Regions from separate parts of the Homo sapiens genome. Here region 1 is linked to region 2. Evidence: fine-mapped expression QTL. Tissue or cell type: unexposed skin. Region 2 holds a variant in brackets; the other region holds the start of a gene. All regions are shown on one strand. Distances are between the middles of the regions.

The links. PIP is the estimated chance that this variant, and not a neighbour inherited with it, causes the effect.
Region 1: it holds the start of CYSLTR1, and the variant in region 2 is fine-mapped to the expression of CYSLTR1 in unexposed skin (GTEx, PIP 0.94).

What each region holds. Positions count from the first base shown.
Region 1 is chrX:78,325,338-78,330,337 of GRCh38, reverse strand. It overlaps CYSLTR1 (cysteinyl leukotriene receptor 1), which reads left to right and starts at 2,727. Exons shown (of 3, transcript NM_006639.4): 1 at 2,727-3,033. RefSeq lists an enhancer at 2,506-2,555.
Region 2 is chrX:78,527,368-78,535,858 of GRCh38, reverse strand. No RefSeq gene overlaps it. Among named protein-coding and RNA genes, the nearest start is that of RTL3, 130 kb to the left of the region's middle. The variant G/T (reference allele first, on the strand shown) is at 4,446.

The DNA.
Region 1 (5,000 bases), 200 kb after region 2:
GGGTTGGACTAGATTTATTTATTCAACAAACCAAACAAGGCAATGAGCTAACAGCTGAGGACACAATGATGAATCAGACATGTCATACCCTCACAAATTCAATTTAATATAAAGTCTGAACCAGATGATGATTTTTCATTACCTCTTTCAGCTCTGAGTCCACATAAGCTATGAATCCTGTCACTTACGTGTGAACGCTGTTGTGACTGAAAATTCTTTATCTTGCTACCCAAGTCTTACTTCATTGAGACAGATTTCCCATCCAACTACATGTTATCCCCCCTCTCCCTCACCACTCCCTATTTGGTCTTCCTTACCTCAATAAGAAAGTAAGAACTGAAGGAGTCTGGGAAAATGAGCAAGAGTAGAGAGACAGCAGCAGACAGGTATCATTCTGGGCACTTCAACCTTTCCTAAAGTGAAAGAGAATGTGAGAGTAGATATGTAATGAAGATGGATGGATGGGAAGAGAAAAGATAAAGAGATGAAGCAAGGAGACAAGGAGTCTGATGTCATTTATAGCAAATGTGGTGTAAATTGATCCAGCTGTACAAGGCAAAGACCCATTTGGGAATGGGTGAATCACTGCCTTCCCCATTGCTCAAGAACAGAAAATTAGCTAATGAAAGAAACAGGTAGGGGAGCACAAAGAAGAACCACAGGAAACACCCTCTCTGCCACAGCTATTTCGGTGCCAACTTGAAGCTCAAGGATTGAAGGGGGCCTGCCCCTCCACGCCTGTGGGTATTTCTCATCAGGTGGTACGAGAGACTGAGAAAAGAAATGACACAGAGACAAAGTATAGAGAAAGAACAGTGGGCCCAGGGGACCGGCAGCCTCAGCATGTGAGGACCTGCACCAGCGCTGGTCTCTGAGTTCCCTCAGTATTTATTGATCATTATTTTTACTATCTTGGCAAGGGGAGTGTAGCAGAGCAACAGGTGGGGAGAAGGTCAGCAGGAAAACGTGAGCAAAGGATCTGTATCATGCATAAATTCAAGGAAAGGTACTGTGCCTGGATGTGCATGTAGGCCAGATTTATGTTTCACTTTATACAAACACCTCAGTGTAGCAAAGAGTAACAGAGCAGTATTTCTGCCAGCATATCTCGCCTCTAGCCACAGGGCGGTTTTATCCTATCTCAGAATAGAAAGAATGGGAATGGTTGGCTTTACAGGAGACATTCCATTCCCAGGGAGGAGCAGGAGACAGAAGCCTTCCTCTTATCTCAACTGCAAAGAGACCTCCCTCTTTCACTACTCCTCCTCAGCAGAGACCCTTTACGGGTGTTGTGCTGGGGTATGGTATCAAAGCAGAAACAATTTTTCCTGGTACAGATCAAAATGGAATTTCTTGTGTCTTCCTTTTCTACATAGACACAGTAACAATCTGATCTCTCTTATCCCCACAAAGGATCTAGCTCCTTTCTCTTTTCTTCATTTCCTGAGTATGAATTGCCCTTCCACTGTAGCTCAAAATGGCTGTAACATTTCAGACTGGAGGAAAAGTGATAATTCACTCTGTGTCTCACTTATAAATTTTCCTGTAGATATTTGGGGATCCAAACTCAGTTGAAGAAATACTAGTTTGAATGTCAGTTTAGTTACTAAAACTCCCTAGGAGAGGATTAGAAAGTCTAGTCTTGAATCCAAATGTTAACATCCCTTCAAATGTGGTTGGATAGCCTTTTCCTCCAACTATCACCATCACCACCACAATCCAGAACTCTGTGAAAAGAGATAAAGATTCAAGGGCCTTAAAGCGATTGTCCCAGGTTGGTTGTGAGGTAATTCTTGTACCTAAAGATACAAAATTTGAGTAAATGACTTTGTTCCTACAGCAGGTAGCAAGCCAGAAGGCTACTGCTGGGCTCATATTTTACAAGTACCTAAAACTAGTTGTTAGTTATGGGGCATGTTTACAAAGTGTTAACATCAACATATTTATGCCCATCTCCATATAGAATCTTCTTAATATAACTCAAGATAATTGATGTAACAAATTCACATCATGATCTTACCAATTTGGTTTTTAACATCAAAGTGCTGCCCCAGGCTTCAATCAGCACATACCAGACTGCTATGTCCCTTTTCTCCAGAAGCCATATTGAGCACCCCACAGCTCTAACACCTCAGAGCCTAGCCAAAGGCCAAGAACACTTGCCTGATCCCCCAAATTTCCAACACAGGACCATTGACAGCAAGCCCAGTCATTCCAGATCATCTTCAGTGGGACAAAAAAAGAAAACAACAGTTTTAATCCAATGGAGGCAATTTATTGTTATGAAGATTTCAGGAAACAAAGCTCAAAAAGGAACCAGAAAGGAAAAGGCTTTTTAGAATGTGGATAGAGCCACAAGTGTCATTAAGGAGAGAGAGAGAGAAACGGAGAGATGAAATTTATGTTACTTAAGATCAAGTTTCACATAATGCCAGTTATATTAGCATATACTGGCAGGATTATCTTTCCCCACCTACAAATAGTCTAATGACCTCACAGTCACAGAAATCACAGAGAACTAAGCTGAAGAGAGAACACTCGTCCCTGCTTCCCATCTTAGAGCAGCTGAATAATTTCCTGAGAATTCTATTCCTGAAGCTAGGAAGAAAAGTTTATTTATACATACACGCAACCTGCAAGTCTCCAGTTTCTATTCTTCCTTCCTCTTTGACCCTTCCCCTCCCCCACTTTGCACCAGAGAAGTCAGACTCCGGGAGTGCTTTAACAGTTTGAAGGCTAATCTGAAAGAGGAAGAAGAATCTGTATATCTGTATATATTGGCTAGCAAATGTGCCCTGCTCTCTCCCCTCTTAAAAATAGCAGCAACCCATCTTTGCAAAGAAGCTTGCCTATAGAGCAGGCACTCTGTGAATGGACTGTGCTTTTACGACCCTACAGGGTATCAAGATACTGTGCAGCTCGCCAACAAGGATTAATTGCAAGGACTGGTAGATCGAATTTACTGAAGACTTGGAGCTTGCTTCTGAGAACAAACGCAAAAGGACAGTAAACTGTGGACCTTGAAGTTAGCAGGTAAGGAGACTCAGTATTCAGTACTAAGACCAGAACAGTATGTAGTAAAATGTTGCTGATGGTAAATTTTAGCAAATTCCCAGGAGTTTGGGGATAAGTTATCTGCCTTGCCTGCTTTAAGTTTGGGTGCTAGTATGAATTCTTTCTGCTTTATTTCTTAGCCAGAAATCTGATAATATGATCAGTCTGTCAACAAATATTGCTCAGTGCTTCTGCTAGGGCTCAACGTGGCAAAATACAGAGGAGACACACTCCGCAAACCTCCTGTGCCTTTGTAATTTAAGCCAGAAATGTAAGATACATTTTCAAATCCCCATTTTGAGGGTTCAGTGGAGTTTCTCTAATGTAGTGACATTTTCCTTCAATATGGAAAATAAATATGTAGTAATTACTGAAGGTAAACCAGTGGAGAGTAAAATTTTCACAAGGTAGTTTCACATTTGTTATCCCACCTGAACCTTTCAACATCCTATAATTTAGACAAGGTAGGTGTTACTGTCCATGTTTATGAATGAGAAAATTGACTCAGAGAGGCTAAAAAATTTTCTTGAAACACACCGTACAACTAGAAAATGGCCAGTTCTGGCCAGAGACTGTAAAAATAAAGCTCTCTCAACTATAAATGAATAGAAGAAAATTGCATGATCTATTTAGTAACTCAGACACATCTGGTGTAGACTAAGTTTACACAGAGCCAAAGATTCATACATTTTAATAAAATCTTTAGCCAGGAACATTTTTCTACTTAGCGACAAAAAAGGCTGTTTTCAAGAGGAAACAAATGGGTTTGTAAGTTCCACCTACTGAATTCAGTGGTTCTGCTTTCCAGTATTCTGATTATTTTGAAACCTAGAGAGAAACTATGATACCATATGTCTAACAAATGATTATTTTAAAAGAAATTGTAACTAAATCTGGACTAGATTGTACACTGTTTTAAAAACAAAAATATTTATATTTTTACAATGCATTATAAAATACAAAGGACTGTATTACATTTAAAATACATTAGGAAAATTTGTTACAAGACAATTTTAACTTTATTACAGAAGTCTTAATCATTCAGAAATGTTTTCTGTTGTTGTTTTACTATTAATGGCTCAATTAGAACTAAAAGCTATCTGTTTTTACATCATAAACAACCTCAAGTGCTATATTTACATTCATCCATGATAAAAAAATTTTCCCCAGTTCCCCTAAGTATTGACTACACCAGCCAATCAGGGTTCCTCCAAATAAAATAAGTCAGTTTGGGAGCCAGTAAGCACACAGATAATGGTAGGTTAAGAAAAGTTTGCTATTTGCTTTTAGACTTAATCTAGCATGTTAGTGTATTCCTAATCAAGAATCATCAATTCTCATTTTCTACTACCTCCCCTTAATGAAATTTTGATGCATTTAGAAACTATTTATCTGTCATAAAAGCAAGACTCTTCCACAGTATAGAAAATTATAAATTTGTATTTTCAGTATAATTGACCAATAATAAAGGATAATAAAGGGAAGGTGCTGATTCTTAAGGTACATACCCAACCTTGTGAATTCAATACTATGAATGGTAACTATCATAATCTCCCAAATAACATTGCCCTGTATGGACCTCTACTTTGGTCCATTTTGTTATTCTCATGTTCCTAACACCTAACAGTGGCTGCTCTAAACTATCTTGCTGCATGGATTTCAATGGGAGAGAAACGGGGTAACTGGGATAACTGGGAGTTCACCCTTGTTTTGACATGTAAACAACTGGGTGTTCTCTGGCAAGTTAACAGCCATTAGTATTTCTTGGTTCCTTTGTGTATCTAATGCAGTAATGAGCTGATAGGAATATTTTCTAAATCTCTTAAAATGATAAATATAAAATCTGAAAGCGACTTGAAAATACAAACCACCATCAGAAGGATTTTGTTTAAATTCCATTCATTCCAGGTGGATAAACATATAACAAAACTGACTGCATGGGGAGA
Region 2 (8,491 bases):
ATGTGCCATGTTGGTGTGCTGCACCCATTAACTCGTCATTTACATTAGGTATATCTCCTAATGCTATCCCTCCCCCCTCCCCCCACCCCACAACAGGCCTCGGTGTGTGACGTTCCCCTTCCTGTGTCCAAGTGTTCTCATTGTTCAATTCCCACCTATGAGTGAGAACACGCGGTGTTTGGTTTTTTGTCCTTGCATGGATGAAGCTGGAAACCATCATTCTCAGCAAACTATCACAAGAAAAGTTTTTATTAAGGATAACTGATATAGGCCAGCTGCAGTGGCTCATGCCTGTAATCCAAAAACTTTGGGAGGCCAAGGATGGTGGATCACTTGAAGTCAGGAGTTCGAGACCTGCCTGGCCAACATGGTGAAACCCTATCTTTACTAAAAATACAAAAAATTAGCTGGATGTGGTGGCAGGCGCCTGTAATCCCAGCTATTTGGGAGGCTGAGGCAGGAGAATCACTTGAACCCAGGAGGCGGAGGTTTCAGGGAGCCCAGATCAGGCCACTGCACTCCAGCCTGGGTGACAGTGTGAGACTCTGTCTTAAAAAAAACAAAAAAGAATAACTGATCTAGAATGGCAAATCATTATAGCTATTCAGAAGAAAACATACATAAAGGCCTAAATTGGGTAAACAACATTGGTAGAAGAGTGTTTCTGTGTATGGTATTTTTTTTTAATTTCCAGGGAATTATAAAGTATGTTTTTATTAATCTTCTTAAAAAGAATATCTCTCGTTTGAATAAAACCAGAATCCTGTAATTTCAGTATTGTAAGTCCTCTTAGAAATTATAGCCCAACCCTATTGATGGTACAGATGATGAATCTGAGATCCAAACAGTAGAAGGGACTCGTCTCAGGGTCACATGGCTTGTTAGTGGCTTTTGAAAAATCAAAGGTAAAGTAACTGCCTACAGGTGATCATCACAAAGATAACCCAAGAATGAACTCTTTGTGGCTATCCCCAGGTTTACAAGATGCCAAACATATTGTAGGGCACCAAAAGCAAAAACTATGCTTAATAATCTAGGTTTTTCTCTAAATTAGAAAACATCTTAAACATTCAGACATCACTGGAGAGTCTTGGTCTCAGATCTGAATCTTGAAAAACCATGACAGGCAATTTGGTCAACCAGAATTTCCATCTAAGAGCCTGATCCTATATTGCAGAAATATTTTTTGACATAGGATATTGTTGCCTTTTCTTGCTGTTTTTCTTAGCACTAGAGATCACACTCCAAATTGTTTGTAAGTCATTTTGACCTGTCATAAATAAGTGCAGAACCATGATACTTCTCTGCAGCAACTCAGACTTCATTTTGGAGTTACAGAAGCATCGTATTTAACTCAACTACAAAAAGCAGACCCAAATTTCCAGGCTAAAACCTCCTGTTCAGTATTGCTTCAGACTAGGAAAATATTGCTATTTAAAACTAACTTCTGTTATTTCTGGCTTCTGCTCAAATTACGCTTTTCACAAGAAACAAATCCTCATCCAGAAGACAGAATTAGGAATCCAGCCTGAGTGAGTAATTTGGGCCTCAGATTTTTAATCTGTAAAATAAGGCCTAAATAATAACTAATGCTCTTCTAATCTGAAATATTCTTTTTTCTTCATGTCTTGTTTTCTTACCTTCTTCAGAAATTCACTCAAATCAAAATTCTCCTTCTCAATTAATCCACTTTATATAAAATTTAAATGTACGCCTCCTCTCACTATTACATACTCTTTTTTCATGCTTTATTTGTTTCTTTGTAGAACTTATCACCACCTTACATACTACATATTTCACTTGTGTAATTATTTTCCATTCCATTCACTGGGATATGAGCTTCACAACAGCAGAGATTTTTGTTTTGTTCCATGACATGAGCCTAGGATGCTCTCTTTCATATAGTAAGTAATACATATTTGTTGAGTGAAAGAATGAATGGTTCTATTTTAAGCATAATTGAATATCTGAAATTGTGAAAGCTTCTTGTAGGTCACATTTCTGATATTGAATACAAATTTTAGTACTAAGTATATATGTCTTCACACACTTTGACATTTTATAGTCAAATGTGCACACTATATACTCATTTATACTATTTCTATTTTGAAAACCAGAAAGGTTTCTAGTATCTTTTTTTCCTAACATACTGATTGTCAAGTATAAGCTCTATTCAGTGTCAATGTTTTGGTCATAAATTCAATCCTCAAGTGTAATATAATGTCAATGAGAAAATTTTTACCACATTCTGCTTTATATTTAGTATCCAGGGACAGATGCTGGCAGAAAGTAAAGACTGCCTGTTTTTGCCTACAGAAACCTACCAATTTGACATTCTTCAGAATTAAACTTTTTTTAACTATATAAGTTTCTGGCCAGAATTCAGCATATAATCAAATTTCTATTTATTCAAGTTTAATTACAGTATCCCACTATATATGCATCTATTTTTAAATAAACTCCTTGAAACAGAGTTCAGAAAAGTGATGCTTCATGCCTCTATTTCACACATTTAAGAAAACATTTTCCAACAGTAACTGTAATGTCAAGTTTTAAGAACCAGGTAGTAGAAAAGTAAAATAATGGGAATGAAAATACAAAGTCTTAGTAGTAAATCTATACCCAAGTTAACAAGGGGAGCTATTGAAGGAGAAAGGAGTAATAAATACACAGCTCAAGGGGAATATGCAGTAAGGGCATATTTCCTTAAGAATACAAATAAGAATAAGAGATAGTCTTACCAATGGTGATTGGAAAGTTTATGGACAAATTATGTAACAGCTCAGATATCCAATGTCTTCAGAAAAAGGGTATTCCGAATATGTAATTGTCTAGAAAGTTCAGCTCCTTAAGAATCAAAATTTGCCCATAAAAATATTTTATAGGACATTTTTAAATATCTTGCTCAGTTTGCCCCTTCTTTTAAAAAGCATACTGAACATATATAATGTTTACTTTCTATAATTGAGTAGTTATAATAAAGCTAAACCCATGTTAAACTGTTTCTTTTTACCAATTCCTGGAAAATGAGTTTATGTGGAGTTGGTTTTCTATAGAGACCAGTGCAACTGTGCCTTCAGTCTGTCTCAAACAATCACAACATAAGTTTATCTTTCCCAGGATTAGCCAAATATTTAGTGTTAAGTACTGAAAATCATATACCTTTTGTATTTCATTTTTCTTTTCTCCATCTCCATCTCATAAATCATTCTTCCTGGCAATCTTCCTTTACATTAAAAAAAAAAAAAGAACCACTTAGCACTGTTTATTTCCTGGCTCTCCTCCTGGTTCTGTTTAATCTCTTAGTCAAACTCTCTGTTTAAGATCTTTCTGCCCTTCTGGCAGTAGCTGTGGTATTGGCAAGCACTGGGACAGTATTCCTGTCAAAGTAGATTTTTCTGGTGCCCAAAATGATGGAAAGTATCACCACTAACCCCTAATTTTACTTCCCCATATTCAGAGAGTAAGACTTTTAAATTTACATCCCCATTTTAGGAAGTAATAGATAAAATTAGAGACTGCTTTTGCCATTAAGCCATTTTAAGAAAGCACTTGCCTGAATTGAGCAGAGCTCCTTTAGAGGTGCTGAAAGGATGTTTCCAGGTCCTTTCTTTGATCTTCAAAGAATGAAAACAGCATTTAGGAAGAAACTTCCGGAGTCTGTGGGCTGAGACCATTTTTGTTACTTCATTCTCGTCCTCCACAGTACCTAGAAAGGAAGGAAAGGAGGAGCAAGGAAAGGTATATTTTGGATTTTGCAATCAACAAAGTCATACAAGAAAGAGAAATAAGGAAGGAAATAAAGTATTGGGAAAATTCCACTAAAAATGAGTGAGTTTCCAAGATACTTGTTTTATGCCCCCCTCCATTTCCAGCTCAAGTCCTGTCTTATTCCTCCACTAGAACTTTTCAAAACCAAATCCTACAGTACACACTCTGCCTACAAATATCTATACCCCCTTATATCATTTTTCCTCCTTTTCAATCCCCAAAAGTTCTTGTGCTCCATTTCAATGCTAGTGAGACAAATGTGACAATTAAAAAGAGGTTCCTGTTCAAGAACTTGGTCCCAGTTCTTTACTTATTAAGATAGGTCATTTGACACAAAACATGGACTAATTCTCCTACTCTGATTCACTATGTGATATATAAATAATTGGTTTTAAAAAAGTACATCCAGACAAAAAAATATGCCTGCATATAGATCCTACTTAGTGTATCTGCTTAAGGCACCTCAAGCTTTAGTCACCAAAGTAATTAGAGTTGGTATTTGGGAAAACCAGACTCCCTTGAACCATGAAAGAGATATATGAAAAAACAATAAGTGTCCATACACTCATATCTAGGCCAAATTGCAAGTGTCCATTAGTTTGGAATTCAGAGTTTGGGGATGTGGTAATAAACTCAATATTTGTGACATAGCTAAAGTATCACACAATTAGCAA[G/T]ACTTTTGCTAACTAACCCAGCACAAAATGTACTTTTCCTCTTGTAAACATTTACTTGATTATGGGTCACTTTTTATACAATGCTCATTTTTTTTACATGTCTTATCTACTCATACATATTTAAGAGATGCCCTGGGCACAGTTCATCTTGATCTCTGCCACCATAATGCCTGGAAAGTTCTTCTCAAACCATAAATACTGCTTTGCCTATTGACTCACAGGTGTACAGAATCCAAAGTGGCCAGGTAGCCATTTTAACTTTCAGCAGAGCATAAGGTCGCAGGCACAGAATGTACAAATTTTTCTAATGAATCACTAAAAGTAACAGTGAGTTTTGCCACTCTCATTTTCACTCCTTGATTCCTGAACCTACACATCTTGGCTATGGAAGAAGCAGCACCATAAATTGAATGTTGATTTACAGCATAACCAGCCTTCTGGAGAACACTGCCCCCAGCCCTGCATGGTATTGTGATTTGGGTGGCACAATAACTGAGTCTTCAAAAGGCTGTTCCACTATTCTATCAAGTCATCAACTTTAGGAGGTTGGGGAAATAATAACACCAGTGAATTCTGTAGGCACGGGCTCGTTGCTACCCTTCATTTGTTGTTAAGTGATTTCTTCATCAGAAGCAATGCTGTGTGGAATTGCATGATAGTAGAAAGGCATTCTGTAAGTCATGAATGGTAGTTTTGGTAGAAGCAGTGCATGCATCCATATCCAAATTGTTTATTCTAATGTGGTAATATATACAGCATGGAATACAATTCATCCATTAAAAAGGAATGAAATAATGTCTTTTGCTGCAAGTTGGATGGAGCTGGAGGCCATTATTCTAAGTGAAGTAACACAGGAATGAAAAACCAAAAACCGTATGTTCTCACTTATAAGAGGGAGCTAAGCTATGAGTACACAAAGGCATACAAAGTGATATAATGGACTTTAGAGACTCAGAAGGGGGAGGGTTGGAAGGCAGTTAGGGATTAAAAAAGAAAGTACACATTAGGTACAATGAACACTACTCAGGTGACAGGTACACTCAGAATTTACCACTATATAATTCATCCATGTAACAGAAACCCCCTTGTACCACAAAAGCTATTGAAACAAAAAAAAAATAAAAACAAAAACAATGTATTTATTCCAGTAAGAACAAAACACTGCCCTTTCCACAAGGAAAGTGGTCTGCTGTAACCAACCTACCAGTGGGTACTTGGCTAATCACTTCAGTAAATGGTGCCATATTGGGAGCTCAGTGTTGTTCTGTGCTGCTGACAGATGGGACACTCTGCAGTGACTGTAGCCATGTCAGCCTTGGTGAGTGAAAGTTCATGTTGCTGACCCCAGGTATAACCTCCATCCCTTCCACTTTAGCCATTTTCTTCCTAAATCCATTGGAAAATGAGAGCAGTGCCTGGGGAAAGAAGTTGACTGTTAGCCACAGATTGGGTCATCCTATCCACCTTATTAAAATCCACGTCTGCTCAGGTCACCCTTTGGTGAGCACTCACATGGGATAACAATAATTTCATGTTTTCCAATTATTAAAAAAAATTGTCTATCCAAGGGCCTTTTCCCCAGATCCCCTTGTCACTGATTTTCTAATTATGCCCTTTCCAAATCCCTGACCATCCAGCCAAACCTTTGGTCACATACCATGAATTGGTATATAATCACATATCTGGTGATATCTCCTTCCAAAAAAAGTGAACAACAAAATGCACTGCTCAAAGTTTTGCCCACTGGGAGGATTTTCCCTTCACCAGTGTCCTTCAGGGATATCCCAGAAAAGGGCTGTAGTGCTGTAGCTGTCCACTTTCAGATGGTGTCCTCATATTGTGCAGAAACATTTGTAAACCAGGACCAAGTCTTCTACTTTTATGGCAAGTGATCATGTAGAACTTTCCATGTGGCCATAGGTGCAGGCTGTGTAGAAGAAAAGGCAGTGTAGCAGGAGTAGGGACCATGGGCATTTAGGCCACTTTTTCATGTAACTTATCTATGCCTTAAGGTCTTGCTGAAACCTAATATCATACATATCACATACATTTGATAATGGAGTGTGACTATGAATGCCCAATTTTCTGGCTTGATGGGTCAGGCAATACTCAGTTTATGGTGGGCAGCTAAAGTTTCATGTAACTTGGTAGCTGACAGTTAAGCATTCAATTTCTTCTGAGGTCCAATAATAAACCAAAAGTTGTTTCTCAGAAAAGAACAGTTATCTGACAAAGATGGCCGAATTTTGTTTCAAAATCTGAAGGGTCTGTGCTGCAATTCACCTCTACAGGCCTGCCCAAGGCTCCAAACAGCATGGCTATCTGCCACTGGATAGCATCATTGGATCTGCTGAACCATATGACCCAAAAGGCAGAACAGCTCGGACCGGTTGCAGAGCTTTCTCTTGCTCTGGGTCTCACTCATAACTAGGTTTTCAGGTCCCTCAATAAATATTTCAAGTATCACACCTGAATGATGAATATATTGTCTCTAAAATCCAAAGAGGCCCAGTAGGCATTGTACCTATTTTTGTTTGTAGGAGGGGCCAGGTGCAATATTTTCTTCACTCTAGAAAGGATATCTTGACATGTACCACATCACGAGACCCCTGGAAATTTCACTGAGGTGAAAGATCCCTGAATTTTAACTGGATTTATTTCCCAACCTCTGAACATGCAAATGTCTTAACAATTAGTCTACAGTAGCTGCACTTCTGGCTCTCTGGATCCAAGGAGCACAATGTCTTCTATGTGATGGACCAGTGTGATGTCTCATGGAAGGGAAAGGCAATCAACATCCTGTTGACTAAATTATGGCATAGAGCTGGAGAGTCAATATACCCCAAAGGTAAGACAAGGAAGGTGTATTTCCAGCCTCACCAGCTGAAAACAAAATACTTCTGGTGTTTTTTACTGACAGATATGGAGAAAAAATTGCAGATGAGTAGCTGCGTATCAGTACCAAGGGACGACTTAATTTGCTCACAGAATGAAACCACATCTGGAATTGCAGCTGCAATTAGAGTCATCACCTGGTTCAGTTTACAATAATTCACTGCTATCTTCAAAGATCTGTTTTCTGAAATAGCCAAATAGGTGAATTGAATTGGACTATGTTAGGAATCACCACCCTTGCATCCTTCAGTCCTTAATGGTAGCAATAATCTCTGCAATCCCTCCAGGAATGCAATACTACTTTTTATTTACTATCTTCCTAAGTAGAAGCAGATCTTGTGGCTTCCACTTAACCTTTCCTATCATAGCAGCCCTTACTCTGCAAGTTATGAAACCAGTGTGGAAATTGTGCCAGTCACTGAGTATGTCTTTTACAATTATGCATTCTGGTACTGAAAAATAATGACAGGATGGGTTTGGTGACACACTGGACCCACTAAGATATACATGAGCTAAAACTCCGTTCATCACCTGACCTCCATAAGCCCCTACTGTGACTAGTGGATCACAGTGGCATTTTGGATCTCCTCAAATTAGTGTCAGTTCAGACCCAGTGTCTCATAATCCCCAAAAAGTCTGGTTATTTCCTTTTCCTCCATGCACAATCACCTTAATAAAAGGCCATAAGTCCCTTTGGGGAAGGCTGGGAGGAAGATAAATAGAATAATATTCTGGGAGTTTCCACTTCTTTAAGGGCACATGTTCTCCCCTTTATGTAAGTGATTCTGGGTCTGAAAACTGGATACATCCAGTTTTGATCAAAGGGCCACAATTCTATCTTTTGATAATTTTTATTAGACTTCTGTGTACTTGACTTAGAATTCTTCTGCTTATACACATCAAGTAAGAATTTATCAGACCTCCCATCTGTTGCTCATCGGGGTATTTCATGATCAACTAGCCAATGACTGACTGTGAGTCAGACTATTCTGAGTACTTCTTTGACTCAGCTGTACATTATGGTAACCATGGCCACCTTGTCTTTGATAATGAAGTGCCACCATTTGGCCCTTGCCACCTCAGGCTCCAGTACCTGATTGTATCTAAGGATCTCAGTTCAGTGGCAGCAGTTCCCACTGTAATTCCTGACC